Regions from separate parts of the Homo sapiens genome. Here all the other regions are reported to be linked to region 1. Evidence: microRNA targets listed by miRTarBase, many of them from high-throughput screens and not tested one by one. Region 1 holds a microRNA gene; each other region holds the end of a gene's coding sequence.
What was found. Region 1 holds the annotated microRNA hsa-miR-508-5p (UACUCCAGAGGGCGUCACUCAUG, at 2,012-2,034, shown strand). A microRNA usually pairs through its seed, bases 2 to 8, with sites in the 3' UTR of a target mRNA and lowers its output. Matches are read on the target gene's strand: a 7mer-m8 pairs with bases 2 to 8, a 7mer-A1 pairs with bases 2 to 7 and ends in A, and an 8mer does both.

Region 2: miRTarBase lists VEGFC as a target of hsa-miR-508-5p. The part of its 3' UTR that is shown has no 7-base or 8-base seed match.
Region 3: miRTarBase lists MYDGF as a target of hsa-miR-508-5p. The part of its 3' UTR that is shown has no 7-base or 8-base seed match.
Region 4: miRTarBase lists THOC5 as a target of hsa-miR-508-5p. Seed matches in the 3' UTR shown: 7mer-m8 at 1,753-1,759 and 7mer-m8 at 1,429-1,435.
Region 5: the mRNA of FHL2 is a reported target of hsa-miR-508-5p. The part of its 3' UTR that is shown has no 7-base or 8-base seed match.

The regions. Positions count from the first base shown.
Region 1 is chrX:147,234,895-147,239,013 of GRCh38, reverse strand. It overlaps MIR508 (microRNA 508), which reads left to right and starts at 1,987; the gene lies at 1,987-2,101. All of the region lies in intron 2 of LOC105373347 (periphilin-1), which reads right to left.
Region 2 is chr4:176,680,504-176,684,622 of GRCh38, reverse strand. It overlaps VEGFC (vascular endothelial growth factor C), which reads left to right. Exons shown (of 7, transcript NM_005429.5): 7 at 583-1,085. The coding sequence ends at 697. All of the region lies in intron 2 of HAFML (HuR (ELAVL1) associated fibroblast migratory lncRNA), which reads right to left. Among named protein-coding and RNA genes, the nearest start is that of HAFML, 28 kb to the right of the region's middle.
Region 3 is chr19:4,654,646-4,658,764 of GRCh38, forward strand. It overlaps MYDGF (myeloid derived growth factor), which reads right to left. Exons shown (of 6, transcript NM_019107.4): 6 at 2,900-3,439. The coding sequence ends at 3,360. TNFAIP8L1 (TNF alpha induced protein 8 like 1) reads left to right here. Exons shown (of 2, transcript NM_152362.3): 2 at 1-923. Among named protein-coding and RNA genes, the nearest start is that of MYDGF, 14 kb to the right of the region's middle. RefSeq lists a silencer at 87-136.
Region 4 is chr22:29,505,212-29,509,330 of GRCh38, forward strand. It overlaps THOC5 (THO complex subunit 5), which reads right to left. Exons shown (of 20, transcript NM_003678.5): 20 at 668-3,309. The coding sequence ends at 3,246. Among named protein-coding and RNA genes, the nearest start is that of NEFH, 27 kb to the left of the region's middle.
Region 5 is chr2:105,357,854-105,361,972 of GRCh38, forward strand. FHL2 (four and a half LIM domains 2) reads right to left here. Exons shown (of 7, transcript NM_001318895.3): 7 at 2,973-3,581. The coding sequence ends at 3,430. It also overlaps a transcript of C2orf49 not described here. Among named protein-coding and RNA genes, the nearest start is that of C2orf49, 22 kb to the left of the region's middle.

The DNA.
Region 1 (4,119 bases):
GTGGCCGTATTTTTTTGCTTTATTACTGATTGTTTTAGTTTTGGTATCTGTTTTGGGGGTGGGTTCTTATATTTTCAGAGGTATTTGGAATTATTTGGAGGTTAATTTTTTTTTAATTGTAAAATGTATATAAACATAAAATTTACCATTTTAATCATTTTAAGTGTAAAATTCAGTGGAATTAAGTAAATCCACAGTGGTGTGCAATGATCACCACAATCCATCTCCAGAAATGATTCATTATCCCAAACTAAACCTCTGTAACCATTAAACACTGACTCCCCATTCCCAGCTCTTGGTAACCTCTATTCTACTTTCTGTCTCTCCTAGTTTGCCTATTCCAGGGACTGAATAGAATAAAATCATACAGTAGTATTCCTTTGTGACTGCTTTATTTTACCCAGCATATTGTCTTCAAGGTTAATCCATGTTATAGCATGTGTCAGAATTTTATTTCTAAGCTGGACATGTATGCACATGACTGTAGTCCCAGCTACTCAAGAGGCTGAGGCAGGAAGATCGCTTGAGTCCAAGAGTTAGATTCTAGCCTGAACAACATAAGGAAACCCAGTTTAAAAAGAAAATTATTTCCTTTTGTAGGGCAAATAACATTTCCTTGTATGCATATACCACAGTTTGCATATCACTTTATCTGTTGATGAACACTTGTATTGCTTCTACCTTTTGTCTATTATAAATAATGCTGCTTTGAACATGGGGGCACTATGTCCCTTTGAAATACTGATTTCAGTTCTTTTGGGTATATACCCAATACTGCAATTGCTGAAATATGGTAATTATATCTTTAATTTTTTGAAGAACCACCATAGTGTTTTCTGTGGTGACTGTGCCATTTTACTTTCCTACCAGCAATGCACGGGGTTATAATTTCTTCACTTGTCAACACTTGTTATTTTCTGTTTGTTTGCTTGTTGATAATATTGATTCTAATGGGTGTGAAGTCGTATCACATTGTGGTTTTGGTTGCATTTCCCTAATTAGTGATATTGAGCATTGTTTCACTTATTTATGAGGTAGAATTGATTTTAGAAATATTTTTGTTTGAGTTTTGATTTATTGGTGTGTAGCTGTAGACTTGGGTCATTTTGGACTACTGACACTGGTGGAGGTTCCTGAATGCTGGGAGACCTGGACATGTCCAGATTAAATGTCCCACACCATAATCTCCCTTTCTCTTGCTCCATGGCAAGTAATTTAGCTAATCCTTTAATTTATTCAGTGCACCTCCCTCTCTCTTTACAGTCTTTTGTTTAACTTGGCTCCCTAGCTCTTAAAATATAACTAGTTTGGGGTCTGTGGATCTCTTACTCCTACTTGCTTCCCCCTTTCTTCAGCCTCAGTATTGAAAGGAAAAAATAGATTCCTGGGAGGCCTGTGTCTCCAAATGAAAATTTTGAAAGAGACCCTCTTGACAAGAACTCTAGGAAATGTTGAGAAAGTCCAGGGCTGAGAAGGAAGAATAAGATATAACTAGGTTCTAAGCCAATTGCTCTCTTGGAAATGATTCCAGGCAAGGTAAATGATCTGTATAATCCCCAGGAATGGTGGAGAAAATGAGATTTTTGTCCTATGAATCCTGGCACTGCCTAAATGATCTATCTCTTTTGCTTGAATTCTCTGCATGTTTACCTTGTTCTCTCTGTTGTTTTGGTGTTAAAAGTTAAATAACTCTGAACCAAGGGACTAGGAATTTGGGGGCACAGAGGGTGGGGAGACCTTTAACACTGGTGGAACACAAATCATTTTTAATATGCCATTCCTAATGACTTGAAAATACATAGGAAAATGTTGGTGAGATTATTTGTTGCCGACTGAAGAGAAGAAGTCCTCAAAATCAGCACATGAAATATGCAGCAAGTAAGAGTATCCTCACTAAAGGATGGTTAGAGAATGGGAATGGAGTGGCAAACATACTAGAAATTCTTCATCGTATCTAAACTTCACGTATATATTTGGGTAGAGCCACCACCTTCAGCTGAGTGTAGTGCCCTACTCCAGAGGGCGTCACTCATGTAAACTAAAACATGATTGTAGCCTTTTGGAGTAGAGTAATACACATCACGTAACGCATATTTGGTGGCCATGGGTGTGAGTGTATACAGCCGCATGCACAGAGCTGCCCTCCCTTGTGTCCAAGCACCACCCTCCCCTTGCTGGGCTAACTCAATGGACTCCCATAGGCAGGTCTTGAAAGGCAAATCCTAGGGACTGAGGGCTCCCAGGAAAAATCACCCATGTAGGCTTTCCGGGGATTTATATACCCTTGTCCAAAGGAGGCATGCCCACACAGGTAAGAAAATTTGTAGTGAGGATGTGGCTTTTCCTCTTTTTATATTCAGAGCTTCTACTGCTACAGAGCCCAACTATTCATTTTGCCTTGAAAAACCTCCAACGTATTTTTCCTCACAACATTTCTTTTAGCTTCCAAGCCTTTTCATTTCCCAGTGGGCTCTTCAAATTCCCTCCTGCCTCAGAAGCATCCCTCTGCACCAAAAAGCTCTTGCTCTTTCAGGATTGAAGACAAGCCTTTCCTTAAGAGTTTGTGTGTTCTTCCTTACTTGGAAAAATACATTATTTCCAAAATTATCTATCTGTTGGTTAAAAAAAAAATATATATATATATAAAATATTTATGTATATATTTTTAAAAAATATTTATATGTATATTTTAAAAAATATTTATTGAAAATATGTGTATATCAGTCCTTTCTAAATTCAACATATCTATAAAAGGTTAAGAAGTTGCCTAGAATATTTGTTTTGTTAGTTTTCTTTGAATTATATTTAACATTTTATTTTTAAAATTATATGAAGGAATAAAAAGAAGTGAAGGTATTCATCTCAGATTATTGAGAATGATAACATATATATTTGTCTTTTCCCTTCCACTTCCCTTCAGTTGCTCCTTCTTAACCTAAGGTCTTCAGAAAGAAAACTTGAGAATCACAGACAAAAGATGGCCAGCGCCGGATCCCTGGAGAACATCTTCAGACTGGAGCAGTGACTAGGAAGCAGGTTGTACACACTACGGTGCTGGAAAAATGGAGGTGGAGTGGGGTTGGAGGGTAATCATCCTGGTGACCCCTTCCGGATTAATTCTCATAAAGCACCTTAAGTGGGCAAGTTGAAGTTTATGGAATTTTGTTGTCATCTCGAGTCAGTGACATGTCTCACTCCGTTCCAAATCTTGGCAAAAATTTAGATTGTAATCAAGAGGAAGGGTATTCTTCTCTTATATCACTAATACTACTACATTATCGCCTGTGTACAACCAGTGTCTACTGCTCATGGTATCTTCTTCCCTATTTCATGAGCTCTAAGAGTTTTCCTGGGCAGAAAGTCTCACCACCCTAGATGTGTGTCTGGGGCAGTGACAGTGGCACCACTGCAAATTGTTCTCAAATTTGTGCTTATTTTTGAGAAGGTGTGAGTTTGTGTGTGAGTATGTGTGTGTTGGTTTTTACAAATGAGTTAATTTAGTTAGTTGATTCGTTCATGTGCATATTGTGGTTGGGTTTGGGGGGACTTTTCAAATTGTTTTTGCTTAGTAATATTGTTTATCCAGACATTGGTAACTGTCTGATTTTGGTTTTGTTTTTGTTTTTTGTGATATTATTTTGTTTATAATTGTCCTTTCATTTCCAGTCTCTGTGCATTTATTTTTCAAAGTTGGTTCTTCCTTTTTAGGTTTATTTGTTTATTTTGTTTGCTTGTATTATTATTTTTAACTGACACATAATCATTGTACATATTTTGGGGGTACAGTGTGATTTTTTATTGTTTGCAATTCAGTGTTCATGGCACCTCTGCTTGTTGTTTCGTTGCATACTTGAAGTTTTTTTTTTTTTTTAAGTTAGAATTGTGGTTTGTGTTTCAGCAAATGTTTTATTCCTGTTTCGGGGGGAGGGGGCTGTCATGATTTAATTATTAGTTGTTGGTTCCAATCTGAGTTTTCTTCTTTGGTTTTGATTTGGTTTTAATTTATGCGTTTGGTTTGATTTGTACTGAGAGGTGCTTGGGAGTTGTTTTAGTTGTAGTTTCCTTTGTGTATTTAGACATGTTTGTTTCTTTCCTGCTGTTTTGCTATATCTTTCTTTG
Region 2 (4,119 bases), not on the chromosome of region 1:
TGCTGAGTATTGTCCTTCTCACCTCCCTGCCCCAGAATGCCTCTGTTTCACCTGGAGCCAAGGTGGAAAGGAAGAGTTAGTCACCGTCATGCAGCCAGCTGCCAAGTAGAGACACAAGAGTGAGGGTGGGGCTGCTCACTGAGGACCACAGTTCTGCCAACATGGCTGGGTTTAATTGCCTGGAAGTCTGGGTCCCATACAAGTCCCAGACTCATGTGAATTCTGCCATGCTTATGTGATCACAGTAAGTCAGCAGACCTTCAGTGTTCACTTTCAGAATTTCTGTTTTATGTTTCTTTCACCCATGAAGCAAAGAGCACTTCAAAGGAACTAATGCTTACAATACCTCATCCTTCCATTTGTTATATCAGCAAGCAAGACTTTTATTTTAAGGCTTTTCCATTCCTCTTAAATGTTGTAATTCTAAGCAGAAACAAACTTTTTTAAACCTATGAACAATTTCGTCATAAAATTAGTAATTTTATTCCAGTCTGAAATTTAAAAACACAGAAATACCTTGGTAGCATGATGAATCCATTGCCTTGATCTTTAACGTAAGTGTGTTCTTGTTTGTTCTCCTAGCTGTTACAGACGGCCATGTACGAACCGCCAGAAGGCTTGTGAGCCAGGATTTTCATATAGTGAAGAAGTGTGTCGTTGTGTCCCTTCATATTGGAAAAGACCACAAATGAGCTAAGATTGTACTGTTTTCCAGTTCATCGATTTTCTATTATGGAAAACTGTGTTGCCACAGTAGAACTGTCTGTGAACAGAGAGACCCTTGTGGGTCCATGCTAACAAAGACAAAAGTCTGTCTTTCCTGAACCATGTGGATAACTTTACAGAAATGGACTGGAGCTCATCTGCAAAAGGCCTCTTGTAAAGACTGGTTTTCTGCCAATGACCAAACAGCCAAGATTTTCCTCTTGTGATTTCTTTAAAAGAATGACTATATAATTTATTTCCACTAAAAATATTGTTTCTGCATTCATTTTTATAGCAACAACAATTGGTAAAACTCACTGTGATCAATATTTTTATATCATGCAAAATATGTTTAAAATAAAATGAAAATTGTATTATAAGCTGCTAAGTTCAGTCCATTATCATCTTACATGATGAACGAAAACTACTATCATGAAGACACTGATCTTTCTCTGCCCTTTTTTGTTCTCTAACCAGATGTCACATATGTATTACTATGATAAAAAGTATGATCCTGTGAAAGAGAGTGTCAGAGGACAACAGAATGCTATTGCTTCATCTCTTATATGTTTAATGATTATAAACATTTTAGTACATGATACTTTTGAATTTATGACCAAGTGAATCAATATGAAACATCTTGTAAGATAGACTACTTAGCATTGTGATTAAAAGTCATTCAGTGCTCTGAGAACATTCAGAATCTTACGTTGGTAGAAAATCCTGCAGTATATATTAAAATGGCTTTAAATATTTTCTCAAAAATAATCTTTTCCAAATATTTGACTTTTTCTGGCCAGCTAAAATACTTTTTGTGAGTGGAAGTGCTCCTATCCAATACATTTTAAAAAAAAACTAAAAATAATATTTAAATACTCATGCATGTTTAAAAGGAAACATTTCAGCCACACAATTGAAGTGCTTGTTTCATTTTCAAAAAGGCATTACACTAAAATACCTTTATCTTTTTTTTTTTTTTTCTTCAGATAGTGTTGCTCTGTTGCCCAGGCTGGAGTGCAGTGGCGTGATCTCAGCTCACTGCCCCTAACCTCTGCCTCCCGGATTCAAGTGATTCTCCTGCCTCAGCCTCCTGAGTAGCTGGGATTATAGGCACGTGCCGGCACACCTGGCTAATTTTTGTATTTTTAGTGCAGATGGGGTTTCACCATGTTGGCCAGTCTGATCACGAACTCCTGACCTCAAGTGATCCACAGACGTCGGCCTCAAAGTGCTGGGATTACAGGCATGAACCACCGTGCCCAGCCTAAAATACCTTTTACTAAAACAAAGATTTTGCCTGCATAAATAAAACCAAATAAGTGGTTTGTTCGTTGACAGAGAATTATATACTGGTACATCATAACTACTGTATAAAAATAATTAGTCCTGAAAAGAGAAAATATTCCTCATAAGCATGTAAAGGTAGCACATTAATTTAACTAAAACATTTTTGTTTTTTTGAAACGGAATCTCGCTCTGTTGCCCAGGCTGGAGTGCAGTGGTGCGATCTCGGCTCACTGCAAGCTCTGCCTTCTGGGTTCAAGCCATTGTCCCGCCTCAGCCTCTCGAGTAGCTGGGACTACAGAAGCCCACTAAAACATTTTTAACTGGTATAGGTGACAAATCAGTATGATACAAAATATCAGTATCTATATATTTTGCTACAAAATAATGTTTTCTTTCAAACTGTTTAATTAGGAAGTCAGTGCCCTGAAAATATCCTGTTTTCAATACTAACTTTAAAAAATGGTTTTAGTGCAATGGTTACTGAATTCCAGCTGTGTGCTCTGTACAGCATTATCATCTAGTTCATGAAGTAAAGTTGTTTATGTCCTGGAAAAGGAAAGCAGTCTTCCAAAACACTCTCATTTACGAATTATAGACTATTTTTCTATTTTTTAGTAACAATGGCTCTGAAGCTTGTCAGCAGTCAACATATGCATTGGGCATTCTACATACTGGCTAAGGTCTAGAAAGTTTTCAAACTTAAGAATAGTTAAAAAAAAAAACTTTGAAAAGTAAATTTGACAATGGGTGATTACAAAACGAAAATTGAGATCAAAATAACCTCTTTTCATCTTATAGGGAATCACAATCCCTAGTGTATAAAATGCTCATCATCTTTGAAATTCAGCTAAGATTCATTTTTTCATCTTATTTGAGCCAAAAGGAATATAAATAAACATTACATAATCTGTTACTGTTGATCTGGCCAATCATTTTTACATTTGATATATTCATTAATTTTTAAGCTAAATTAGGAGTAAAATATATTCTAAGTTTCAGTAAGCACCCTGAGGCCATGTAAAGAATAGTAGAACCTGATACAATGACTGTCATACGTTATCAGGTTTGAAAACAAACTAAACCGTGTGCTAAACATTAGTTTTTTGGGGTAAACCAAAGAATGAAAACACGAAATCAAAAACTAAAGCCTGAATCATGCCAGAAAAACTATTTAATCTTGTCCCTGGAGATGTAATAATTTTGACCAAAAGTGAGAGTATCGTAAACAAAGATAATATATTGCCGAAGATACTTGCAAACAATTTTATGTGGACCATAAAAATCCCTCTTCAACACATTATAATGAGTGAGATGTTGTGTAGCCAGTGAAGAAAATGGACTAAAGATAAAGCTAAACAATTAATTAGATTAACAAATATGATGCAGCAAAAAAGCTAAAAACTACAGTGAGAATGTTCATAAACTTTGCAGGAAAGTCCTGAGATGCCAATTCAGTCAACCTAAGTGATAAAGTTAAGAAAACTCTGGAAGCTCGCAGCAGTTATTATCTTAAAGCAGTTAGTATATTCCAAATCTTAGAAAGTTTATAAACAGAATTTTATGTCCAGAAACCTAATAGCACATACTCCTTTTAAAAGACTCAAGGAAAAATTGTTTTGGTGAGCAGTTGTGTAAGAGTTAGCGTCCAGATTTTTTGGGGGAAAGCTTTTGACATTTACTAACTGCTTGGCTGAAACAGATTCCATTATTAGAATTTCTAAAAATAACCTTTGTTCTTTGTATTCACACCACTCAAAACAAGTTTGAGTGGCAAATATAAGACTGAATTCACTGACGTACCTAGAATGCACTTTAAAGAAAAGAGAAAGGGTCATGAACTTATCTCTAGGCACTAGGCTTTCTCAAGGGATACCCCGCTTATGAAGGAATTTTACTCAGTGGATGAGAGAGAAGAAACAGACACAACAGGTGAGAGAGTTCATATTACAGCAATTGTTTCATACATTTGCTGTATGAATACGGCAAAGCTTATGAAACTCCTTACCTACATACTGAAGCTCCCATGTTTATCTGTCTAGGAAGTGCTGGGGCTAAGAGAATACACAGGTCTCTCGGCCCACACTCTTCTACATTGCTATGCTGTCCCCAAGATCTGAGCTTTCATTA
Region 3 (4,119 bases), not on the chromosome of region 1:
AGCAACCAACCAGCCAACCATGTTGCTTTTATAAGACAGAGCTGAGAAAGCAAAGCTTGGCTGTCGTCTTGGCTCTGGTACCACCCACGAGATGCGGGCGATTCTCAGCTCAGGGCGTGGAGGCGTGGTGTGGGGGAGTCTATTTGCCATTTTTGTTTGTCAGCAGGGGGCAGGGGTTCTCAAAGATTGCAAAATGCTGCTGCAGGTCAGGAAGGTTATTTTGGGTGCCTGTGGGGGAGGTGAAACAAGGTCCCATGACTGTTTTGCAGAACCTTGTCTGTGGAGGGTAGAGGTTGCGGCAGGGGCCTGTGGGCCTTACTTGGTGAGAAGGTAGGTCTAGCTGGCTCCATTCAGTATTTGAGACATTTGGAATTTGTCTGCATTTAAAACCAAGAGATCACACACACCTGTCTGGATTTGGAGTTTCTCTTGAAAACTCGCCAGTCCGGCCGTCTGAGCCTGCACTGACGCCTGGTGAAGCTGTGCAGGGGCCGCCCCTCTCCCTTTCACCACAGTCCTCTCCACTCCCTTTCGCCTCTCCCTGGCCTGCTGCACTCACTGATAGGAAATTCTGACCCCAGACTCGGAGCAGCCTTCCCGTGGTTCGGTTTTTGCTTCCGCGAAAAAGCCAAAGGCCTTGGCCAGAGAGCCAGCTGTTCCTACCTCTACCCCACGCTTCCAAGGCAACCTTCTCCACTTATCTTAGGCCGAGAGACAGCTCTTCAAGAACGTACATGGATCCTGATTTTCTCACGAAGTCCCGATGGAACCCTGTGCTGTTGAGACATCAGTGTGTAAAACTCTCTGTGTCCCTGTTGGGCTGTCCAGACAGTCTGGACTCTTGTAAATTTGAGATTTAATTAAAGGAAACAAACCAAATAGGACTGCGGAACAATTTAAATAAAAGCACACACCAGCCTGGGCGCAGTGGCTCATGTCAGTTAAACCTAGTGCTTTGGGAGGCCGAGGCAGGAGGATCACTTGAGCCAAGGAGTTCAAGACCACCCTGGGCAACATAGCGAGACCCTATCTCTAAAAATATATATATATAAGGCCAAGTGCAGTGGCTCACGCCTGTCATCCCAGCACTTTGGGAGGCTGAGGCAGGCAGATCACCTGAGGTCAGGAGTTCAAGACCAGCCTGGCCAAGATGGTGAGACCCCATCTGTACTAAAAAGTACAAAAATTAGCTGGGCATGGCGGCGGGTGCCTGTAATCCCAGCTACTTGGGAGGCTGAGGCAGGAGAATCACTTGAACCTGGGAGGCGGAGGTTGCAGTGAGATGAGATCGTGCCACTGCATTCCAGCCTGGGCAACAGAGTGAGACTTGGTCTCAGAAACAGAATAAAAAAATAAAAAATTATAGCCAGTCAGGGTGGCATGCACATGTGGTCCCAGCTATCTGGAAGGATGGCTTGGACCCAGGAGGTTGAGGCTGCGGTGAGCCGAGATCGCACCACTGCACTCCAGCCTGGGTGATGGAGCAAGATCCTGTCCAAAAAAAAAAAAAAAAAGCACACATATGCACACGTAAGGTCAGAGGGGAAGCTCCTGTGTGTCCCGAGATGCCCTGATGTATGCTGGTGCATCAGGCCACCCGGGCATCATCCTTGATGACAGCCAGGGATCCAGAAGCTGTGGGCGAATCCCAGCTGACCAGGAGAGAGTCCCCCTACCTTGGCCAGGGTACTGGTGGTAGGCACTGTTTCCCACGGCCTTTTCTGCACAGGAGGCCCTGGCAACCCTGTCGTGCTCATCTTCTGGGCCCCGTGGAGCCTCAGAGTCAAGAGCTGGAAAGCCTCCTGGCCTTGGCGGGGGGGTCTTCAGACCTCAGAGCACTGCCATTCTTGGTCTAGGGGCCCTTCCCGCTGATGTGTGCGGCCGTCAGTCCTTTCCTCATGTGGTGGCATCAAGTGTGTGCTGGGAAGTCAAGGCTGGCTGGTTCTTTTTCTTTTGAGACAAGGTGTCACTCTGTGGCCCAGGCTGGACTGCAGTGGCGCGATCTTGGCTCACTGCTGCCTTGGACTCCTGGGTTCAGGCGATTCTCCTGCCTCAGGCTCCTGAGTGGCTGGGATTACAGGTGTGCCCCACCACACCTGGCTAATTTTAAAATTATTTATTTTTTGGTAGAGATGGGGGTCTTGCTATGTTGCCTAAGCTGGTCTTGAACTCCTGGTGTCAAGAGATTCTCCCACCTTGGCCTCCCGAAGTGCGGGGATTCACGGGCGTAAACCATCCTGTCTGGTCTGTTTTTGTTTTTTAGTCACTGTTGCAACCCAGCTTCAAAAAACTACGGGAGGCTGGCCACAGTGGCTCATGCCTGTAATCCCAGCACTTTGGGAGGCCGAGACAGGTGGATTGCTTGAGCTCAGTTCGAAACCAGCCTGAGCAACATGGCAAAACGCTGTCTCTATCAAAAGAAGATGCAAAAATTAGCCGGGCATGGTGGCGTGTGCCTGTAGTCCCAGCTACTTGGAAGGCTGAGGTGGCAAGATCGCTTGAGCCCAGGAGGTGGAGGTTGCAGTGAGCCGTGTTACACCACTACACTTCAGCCTGGGTGACAGGAGAAGACCCTGTCTCAAAAGAAAAACAAACTAAGGGAAACCAATGCCCCAGGCTGCAGAGAGCAGGTCGGCCTTGGAACATCCTCCCGCGCTGGGGCCTGTGGCAGCCACAGAAACCCGGGTGTGAATTCACAACATGTGGGGGACCCAGGGACAGCGAGTGCCAAGGGGGGAAGGGGGCAAGTTCACATACAGCCACCTTGGGATCTAGCGCTTTGATGCCTGCAGAGAAGTCCCACCCAGAGACACCGCCCACCCGCCCACGGTGGGGCAGTGTCAGCCGCGTCTGAGCTCCTGACCCGCAACGGCCAGCCGGGAGGGCCCAGGCTGTGGGGTTGCTTTTTAATGTTCTTATTTATTTAAATATGAAAAAACATTTCATCTCTTCCCAGTTCATCTGAAAGGAGGTCCCCTGGGTAAACATAGGAAAGCAGTTCTGCAGGCTCATGAAGGATGCTCGGCTGGAGGTCGGGGGGAGCATGGCTGCTTTCCCCAGCATAGCCCCCATGTTCCCCACCCTCTTTGTGCCCCGGATCTGCGATCCTGAGTCCAGAAGAGCTCAGCAGGAAGTGGGAACTGAGAAGCTGTTGGGAGCCAGGAGGGCCCTGGACCCTCTGTTCTCTGCCCCAGGGCTTCAGCCACCCTGCAAGCCCCTCCGGACAAGGCAACGTCAGCCCAGGTAGAAAACTTAAGAGTCCCTCCTAGAAAACCAGTGATGTGCTGGCCCTTTCAGGGACACAGGCCCCTTCAGCTTCACCGGAGATGAGAAGGTGCCACCCGCAACAGGGCTGCTGGTCACAGCTCAGTGCGCGATGCCTTGGCCACAATCACCAGCTTGGACAGCTCAGCTTTGAATGCCCCGGGCCTGTGAGCCACTGCAAGAAAGAAACACATGGTTGGGCCCTCAACATTGAAAATTCTCAGAAGTCCGGAGGATTTGGGGTGGGGCCCATGGTGGGGGCTAAGCAGGCAAGGGGAGCAGTCTCCAAAGCAGACTCCCATGTGAAAAGGCCCCAGGCACTGAAAGTCTTACGGGTGACAGACAGGAAAACAGTGATGTGGAGGGTAAGGTCGGTGGGGCTAACATAGATGGCAGGCAGCAGGAAGCCACAGAAAGACCTGAGGTGGGAAGAACCCTGGTCATTTGTGCCATGTTGTCAAGAAGAGATGCAGAAAGGGGCCAGAAGAAGCCCAGGAAGGAGATGATCCCGGCCTGAACAGGATGCAGGGTGGGTCAGGCTGCAAGACCTCCTGCTCAGTGGGTGAACCTGTCTGAGGCCCTCATGACACTTCTCCAGCAGGGTCAGAACTCTGGCTTCCACTGCTTCACCCAAGTCTCCCGGCCCTACCTGCTGTGTCCACTCCCTTGGCTCCCACCCTTGCCCCAGCTCGGCGCCTCCGATTCCTCTTTCTGCTTAGCATTGGCGCCATGCAGCTGAATGTGGCTTGAGGACACCGGTGCTGCTCAGGCAACCGAAGAAGGACCCTGATGTTTCCCAGTGACCCCTGCAGCCTCCCCTCGGCATGCCACAGTCCCAACCTCAAAGCCCTGATG
Region 4 (4,119 bases), not on the chromosome of region 1:
TGGGTGTCTGTGTTTCTAATCAGGTGCCAGGATGGGTGACTCCCACACAGGCTGAAGTTCGAGGACCTCTGAGCTAGAGAGTACCTGCCTTTGGAATTCAAAGGACTGATGTGGACTGAGGGTAGCGGTGGTGATTTAACAGCCACCAAAGGTACCATTCTCTTCTCCTTGCTAGGCTCAGGTTTCTTTTCTTTTTCTGAATGGGGACTCACTATATTACACAGGCTGGTCTTGAACTCCTGGGCTCAAGCAATCCTCCTGCCTCAGCCTTCTGAATGGCTTGGATTATAGGCATGAGCCACCACGCCCAGCAAGGATCAGGTTTTCATCCGTAAAATGAACGGCCCTGCTAGGGGCAGGAATTTATTACTTAGCTCTTACTCTTAAAATCCTTATCCCTGGGATACTCAGTGGTCGGCAGAGAGACCTGGAGGAATAGCTTTTATACTGGAGGTCTGCATTATCCATGGAAAATCAGTAAAAGTCCACTTAGGGGGAATATGCTTATGATGGGAACCAAGCTTAACAGCATGTTGTGGGGGGATAAAGTTTCATCAGGACAATCACAAAAAATAAAATGTGTTTCCTCTTGGAGTTAGCAAACTATATCTGCAACTATGTAATAATTCTCAAATATTTTTACATTTCTACATCTTTTTTTTTTTTTCCAAGACGGAGTCTTGCTCTGTTGTCCAGATGGTGCAGTGGCACCATCTCGGCTCAGTGCAACCTCCGCCTCGGGGATTCAAGCAATTCTCCTGCCTCAGCCTCCCGAGTGGCTGGGATTACAGGCGCGCACCACCATGCCCAGCTAATTTTTGTATTTTTAGTAGAGACGGGGTTTCACCATGTTGGCCAGGCTGGTCTTGAACTCCTGATCTCAGGTGATCCGCCCACCAGCCTCCCAAAGTACTGATATTAAAGGCGTAAGCCACTGTGCCCAGCCCATCTTATTTTTTAAAATGAAGAATGGAGTACTGATGGTGGGGTCAAGATACACTTTTTGACAAAACTGTCCAAGAATAGTCTATGCCATCCTTTACTTTGACTTGCAGGAGTATTACAAAGGATGTAATTTTATGAACATTTTAAAGGTTGTTACCTATCTTCCCAAGACTTCTCTTAATCAAATAATTATATTTTGAGGCACTTTTGTCATTACCTTAAAGACTCTACTCAGGCCGGGTGTGGTGGCTCATGCCTATAATCCTAGCACTTTGGGAGGCCGAGGTGGGAGGATCATTTGAGCCCAGGAGTTTGAGACCAGCCTGGGAAAAATAGTGGGATCCCGCCTCTACAAAAAATTTAAAAATTAGCCAGAAATGGTGGCACACACCTGTGGTCCCAGCTACTTGGGAGGCTGAGGCAGGAGGATCACTTGAACCCAGGAGAGGTTGAGGCGGCAGTGAGCTGTGTTCGTGCCACTGCACTCCAGCCTGGACAACAGAGCAAGACCCTGTCTCAATAAAAAAAAAATATTCTCCTCAAATGTTACCTGGTCTCACTGTCCTGTATCTCTGTATGTGATTGATTCTCCAACACCACTCTCGCCATCTCCATGAAATCCTGTAAGACTTAGAATTACTCTCTGTGAAGTACAGTTGATCTCTGAACAATAGTTTGGACTCTGTGGGTCTATTATATGCAGATTTCTTTTTTTAAAATTTTTTAGAGATAGGGACTCGCATTGTTTCCCAGGCTGGAGTACAGTACAGGCACGATGAATAGCTCACTGCTACCTTGAACTCCTGGACTCCAGTCATCCGCCCACCTCAGCCTTCTGAGTAACTGGGACTATTGGTGCATACCACCACACCTGGCTGATTTTTAAATTTTTTGTAGATACAGGGTCTCTCACTACGTTGCCCAGGCTGGACCTGAACTCCTGGCCTCAAGGGATCCTCCCGCCTTAGCTTTCCAAAGTACTAGGATTACAGTCATGAGTCCCTGCACAGATTTTGTTCAATAAAAATAACAGTGGTGCCTGCCTCCCCCTCCACCTCCCCCACTTTTTCTGCCTCTGCCATCCCTGAGACACCAAGACCAACCCCTCCTCTTCCTTAGACTATTCAACCCTGAGACAGTATGTGAAGACCTTTATGGTGATCCACTTCTACTTAATAGTAGATATATATTTTCTTCCTTATGGCTTTCTTATTTATTTATTTTTGAGACGGAGTCTCACTCTCGCCCAAGCCGGAGCGCAGGAGCGTGATCTTGGCTTACTGCAACCTCTGCCTCATGGGTTCAAGTAATTCTGCCTCAGCCTCCTGAGTAACTGGGACTACAGGCATGCGCCACCACGCTTGGCTAATTTCCATGTTTTTAGTAGAGACAGGGTTTCACCATGTCGGCCAGGCTGGTCTCAAACTCCTGACCTCAAGTGATCCACCCGCCTTGGCCTCCCAAAGTGCTGGGATTACAGACGTGAGCCACTGCACTCAGGCCCCCTTGTGACTTTCCTTATAACATTTTCTTTTCTCTAGTTTACTGTATTGTAAGAATACAGTGTATAAGATACAAAATATATACTGAAAATATGTACTGACTATGTTAGCAGTAAGTAACTACTAATAGCATACTACTGGTCAACAGCAGGCTATTAGTTAAGTTTTTAGGGAGTCAAAAGTTATACACGGATTTTTCAACTGTGCAGGGCAGGGGGTGTTGGTGCCCCTAACCCCTGAGTTGTTCAAGGATCAACTGAGTTTGTCTTCTGTTTGCACTGCACTGTCAGACATTTATAACATCCAACGATCAGAGACAATTTGTCCATCGGCAACCCTGACAGGACTAATGGGAAGAGCGGGTGGGGAGGGAAGAGTTTTGCTTTTTGTGCTCTGCTGCCTTTGGCTTCTCCTACCACCTCTTAACAGCAGGAACTTGGGATAATAAATACAAGATCATGAGGACCTCACCCCGCAAAGCACAAATAGGGTGTGCGTAGACAAGAGGTGAGCATCTCTCTGCAGAATTGGAATCTTTTTCCACTCTGCTTTTATTGGCTGCTGAGAAAAAGTCTCTCTACAAATGCTTTTTCACACTGTGTCACAGCTCCCACCTGCCCTTCCAGACTGCAAAGCCACCTTGCCAGGAACCACAGACAAAGGCCACTGGTCAGGTGACGCTTTTTAATTGGCTGGTGTCTTTGGAGAATATCAAGAGTCACATGTGGGCCAGAGCAGAAAGCAGAAGCCCAGTGCTCAGGGTGAGGCCTTGGGGGAAACAACGGTCTGCGCGGGAGATCAGCGATGGCTGAAGAATCCCTGAGGATGGTTGTATTTAAATGGCTTCATCCTGCTAGGACCCCTAGAGAAATAGGAGAACGGAGTTGTTAATAACACACCTTCTAGGCTGATAAAATAAATTATGGTTCATTCACACAAGGGAAAAAGAAGAGGCAGAGTTACATGACACAGAATGTTGTTGAGAAAAGCATACGGCAGAACAACATATAAGGTGCGATACTATTTTTGTAAAAATGTCTTTTTGTGCTTGCAAATGAGTGAACACAAACTTGGAAAGGCCCTCACTGACAGTGGCACTTCGGGGACATAGCTTTAGGCACCCTCACTTTTTAGGATTGTTCCTTTTTTTATTTTTTGAGACGGAGTCTCTGTGTCGCCCAGGCTGGAGTGCAGTGGCGTGATCTCGGCTCACTGCAACCCCTGCTTCCCGGGTTCAAAGGATTTTTGTACCTCAGCCTCCCAAGTAGCTGGGATTACAGGCATGCACCACCACGCCCGGGTTTAGGTTGAGGTTTAGTTTAGGTTTTGCCATGTTGGCCAGGCTGGTGGAACTCCTGGCCTCAGGTCTCTTGCTGCCCATGCCAGCACTCTGCATCCTGGCCGGAGAGCCTTGCCTCTCACATCTACCGGCCATAGAGTTAACTGGATCTGAGTCACTGAAGGAGCACCTTCCCAGAATGCTGACAGAGGAGCTCAGCCTGGAGACACAACAAAGCCCTTCAAGAATGGGGTCCTTTGGCCGGGAGGTGGAGGTTGCAGTGAGCCGAGATCATGCTACTACACTCCAGCCTGGGCGACAGAGTGAGACTCTGTCTCAAAAAAAAAAAAAAAAAGAAAAAAGAAAAAGAAATGGGTCCTTTGGGAACCACTG
Region 5 (4,119 bases), not on the chromosome of region 1:
ATGTGTTCAGCCAGTGTTTGGTCAGAGGTTCTGCTTAAGCACTTTGAGCTAATAAGATTTCTGCTCTTTGCTGATGGATCTGTGTATGCCTTAGAGAATGCTTTCAAGTTTGTTTCACATCTGATTGCTCCTGAGTGGATACAGCCCTGTCCATACATACTTCCCGAACCTCAAGGATAAACCAGATTCCAGGAGGGCTCTTCTTGGCTATCTCTTTCTCTGGTTTTCTGTGTTAAACTTCTGGCTGGTCTGTCATTTTGCTTTTTGCTACTAATAGCATGGAGTTACCAGCCCCTTCCTTAATGGCTCACTGGTAAGATGTCTTATTGTTTTTGACAATCCCCTTAGGCAAAGATTTCTCGTTCTCCGTACCAAATACCAGTCCCCTTGGGCATAACTGCTGGGTTACCAGTCTCAGAGCCTGGATCTCCTCTGGGGGCTGGACAGCAGCCTGCTTCTCCAGGACTGACATCCCTTCTCTGTGAGTGGGTTGATAGCCGCTGGTCTTCTCAGATTGCCCCTCCCAATGTGGAGCCTCCGCACTAAGCAGGCTAGGGTAGGGGCAATTGGAGCTCTACGATTCTCAGCCTGTCGCACCTGGGGCAAAGCCCTAGACTGGTAGCTGGAGGAAGAGAGACCCCTTAATTTTTGGCTGCATTGGTCCAGAATAGAGTTTGTCACATGAAGCTGGGGAGTGGGGATGGGATAGGATGAGGCTGTGGCTCAAATGCCACAGACTCACTGTTCTTTCTAAGACTTAGTAGTGGATTTTCCTGAATGAATGTTTATTTGTTGTATGCTTCTGGGGAAATTTTCAGAGACTTTGTGTTGTGTGGTTTATATACAAGTAATTTCCTTCAGTAGGAAGAGGGTCGGTCAGCTAAGCCCTGCAAACCACTATCTGTAAAGTCCTGTCAGTCAATGCTTTTAGCCTTGGCTGGGCTGCTTGGAGTCTGGCCTAAGTATACACGGTTCAGTTGTCAGCCAGAAATTTCTAAGTTCATGCGACGAACTTGGGGCTCTCCTTTTCAGGATTTTCTTCCTCACTTTCCAGAGGCTGTTTGTCCCGAACTCTGGCCTCTGGTTCCTCAGGCCAGTAAGACTGCAGGTTTCCTAACAGAGTTTTAGATCCCTGGCGGGGGCCTGCCATTGGATAAAAGGCCGAAACAGGAAAATCACCCAGTGTCGTTCTCTTCTTCCAAGTGTCTACTGCCCTCCAATATCTGCCTGCTTTGGATCGTGCTCCAGTGTTCTTAACAATTAAATAAATATTTTGTCCAGAATGACTGTTAATTTGGAGGAGAATTAGTCCAATTGGAGCTATTTACTAGAAGTGGAATTCCCCCTAACCATTAATTTTAGAATGGGTAATTTAAGGTTGGGAGAGTCTATGGTTTTAATGAGGAACAAGTAAGATGTTCCAAAATGAAATTTGGAGTGCTTTTACTTTTATATTATGAAGTAGAAAACAGCAAAACAACTAACAAAGGATGAAATTATTCTTTTTAAGCAAAACCTCAAGTCAACTATAAAACCAAAAGACTCATTCCAGACATTATCAAACATTCTAACAGTGACTAACACTCAGATTAAGAAACTGATTTCACATATGCTCAGCATATATCAGACTTGATTTCCACCAAATTTTTCTGTTGCTCAGCCTATCATTTTATTATATTGCATTGTCTTAGAAAACTAAGGACAAAAAGGTCACTGATGCTCCCATTCTAAAGAGAACTGTGCAATGTTCTATCCCATACATTGGCTCCGTGCTTCCCAACTGTATACTGCTATCTGAGATTATTCCACAGACTACTGCCACACTAGTAGCTCAGAATGTTATTTTTACTGTAATGACTGTGTGTCTCTCCTGCTTTACTGCCCTTTTCAGAAACACTGAAGGCTCCCAGTGTGCCCTCAGTTGCGAGGGTGTTGAGAACATAAAGATGAACAGGATGTCGTCTCTGGCCTCAAGTTGCTTATGTCCTTGTGCAATCTTTCACTTTATGGAAGTCGGTGTAAGATGTGGATCCATAACACTGGGACAGAGCCGATAAGCTCTGCCAAGAAAAATGACCTGAAAATTGGCTTCACTGTCAGTTTATGTTACTGTGTCAAATGCAGAGGATTACATTCCAAGAGAAAGAGTATGGGAAAGACAGAGAAGGTAGCTGGGTGCGGTGGCTCATGCCTATAATCCCAGCACTTTGGGGGACCGAGGCAGGTGGATCACCTGAGGTCAGGAGTTCAAGACCAGCCTAACATGGTGAAACCCCATCTCTACTAAAAATACAAAAATTAGCCGGGCATAATGGTGGGTGCCTGTAATCCCAGCTACTCAGGAGGCTGAGGGCAGGAGAATCGCTTGAACGCGGGAAGTGGAGGTTGCAGTGAGCTGAGATTGTGCCATTGCACTTTAGCCTGGGCGACAGAGCGAGACTCTGTCTCAAAAAAAAAAAAAAAAAAGGGAGAGAAGGTAGCAAGGAAGAGGTGCCTGGTGCTGACTGAAGGCTTTTTTTTTTTGAGACGGAGTCTCTTTGTCTTCCAGGCTGGAGTTCAGTGGTGCCATCTCAGCTCACTGCAAGCTCTGCCTCCCGGGTTCATGCCATTCTCCTGCCTCAGCCTCCCGAGTAGCTGGGACTACAGGCGCTCACCACCACACCCGGCTAATTTTTTGTATTTTTCGTAGAGACGGGGTTTCACCATGTTAGCCAGGATGGTCTTGATCTCCTGACCTCATGATCCACCCGCCTTGGCCTCCCAAAGTGCTGGGATTACAGGCGTGAGCCACCGTGCCCAGCCGAAGGCTTCCTTTAAAGGGTGTGATGCTGTTCCAGTTGGCAATGCCCCAGGCCATTGGAACATTGGAACTGCACTTCATACAGTGACCATGGGACCATGCAATAAAGTGTTACTTAGACTCAGTGCCTCGACCTGTAATCATGATTTCACACTCTGTGCCTGGCAAAAGATTCTGTTCTGAATAACTTTATTGCAAGTCACATAATCTTGGTTTAGACTTGACGCAACGGGAGGTTACAGAGCTGTAAATAACAACTGGTCATTACCTTATTGAGTTTAGAAAACTTTCAAGTTCGTGACATATGTTAATTGCACTTAAATAGACAGTGAGAGAAAGATTTATAAAGGCATCATTCAAAAGGATTTTTACATTTGGGTGTGCCTTACTCGATTACAAAAATTTCAAACCATCTTCCCACCTAGGGCCTAGGGCGAGTTTTCTCTTTCCCTGGGACTGAACTATCACAAAGCACTAAAGGGTTTAAGCAAACGTGAGTATCACTGAAAAGCACTAGAAGAAAGTCTCAATGTGGCTGGAAGAAACCAGAAGGCAAGATTGCCTGGGTGAGAAAGAAAACATAAAAATCTGTGTGTGAGATCACAAGCAGCAACTTCTCTGTGTTGAATTCAGATGTCTTTCCCACAGTCGGGGCACAGGATGTCGTCCCTCTCTGTGAGGAAGCCACGCCCCACCAGTGAGAGGGAGCACTTCTTACAGTTAAAGCAGTCGTTATGCCACTGCCGTTCCTCAAAGGAGATGTATTTTGTGCCACCAAGTCCTGTTAACAGAGAGAAAATAATACCGGATGAAGAAAGTTAGAATCAGGCAACTGGGACTGAAGAAGGAATTCTGGTTTGATCCATTTCAAAGTTTGGATTGTGTAATATGGATAATGTGAATTTCTAGTGACTGGGTGTTGGGAATCCATATGTAAATCAGATTCTATGCACAGCCTGGAGGATCTCGTGAATATCAGAAGAGATATATAAACTGGTTCCAAAACGATGGGATAAGTGCGATCAAAGAATGCTGACTGTGTATTTGTTATGTGTTTTCCCACAAAATGAAACTCCATGAGAAGAGGGAGCAGATTTCTCTTATGTCTTCACTAGGTGCCTCACGTTGCCTGGTGCTCAAATTTTTATGACTTAATGATTGAAGCAGTGAAGGGAGTGTAGAAGAGGAAAAGGTTAATCCTCCCTGGGATGGCCAGGAAAGGCCTCACAGATAAAGTGCGATGTGGGTGGGAATGAGGGGAGAGGGATATTGTCGCAGTGGGAAGATCCTGAGAAAGCTGCAGACAGATAGAATGGAAT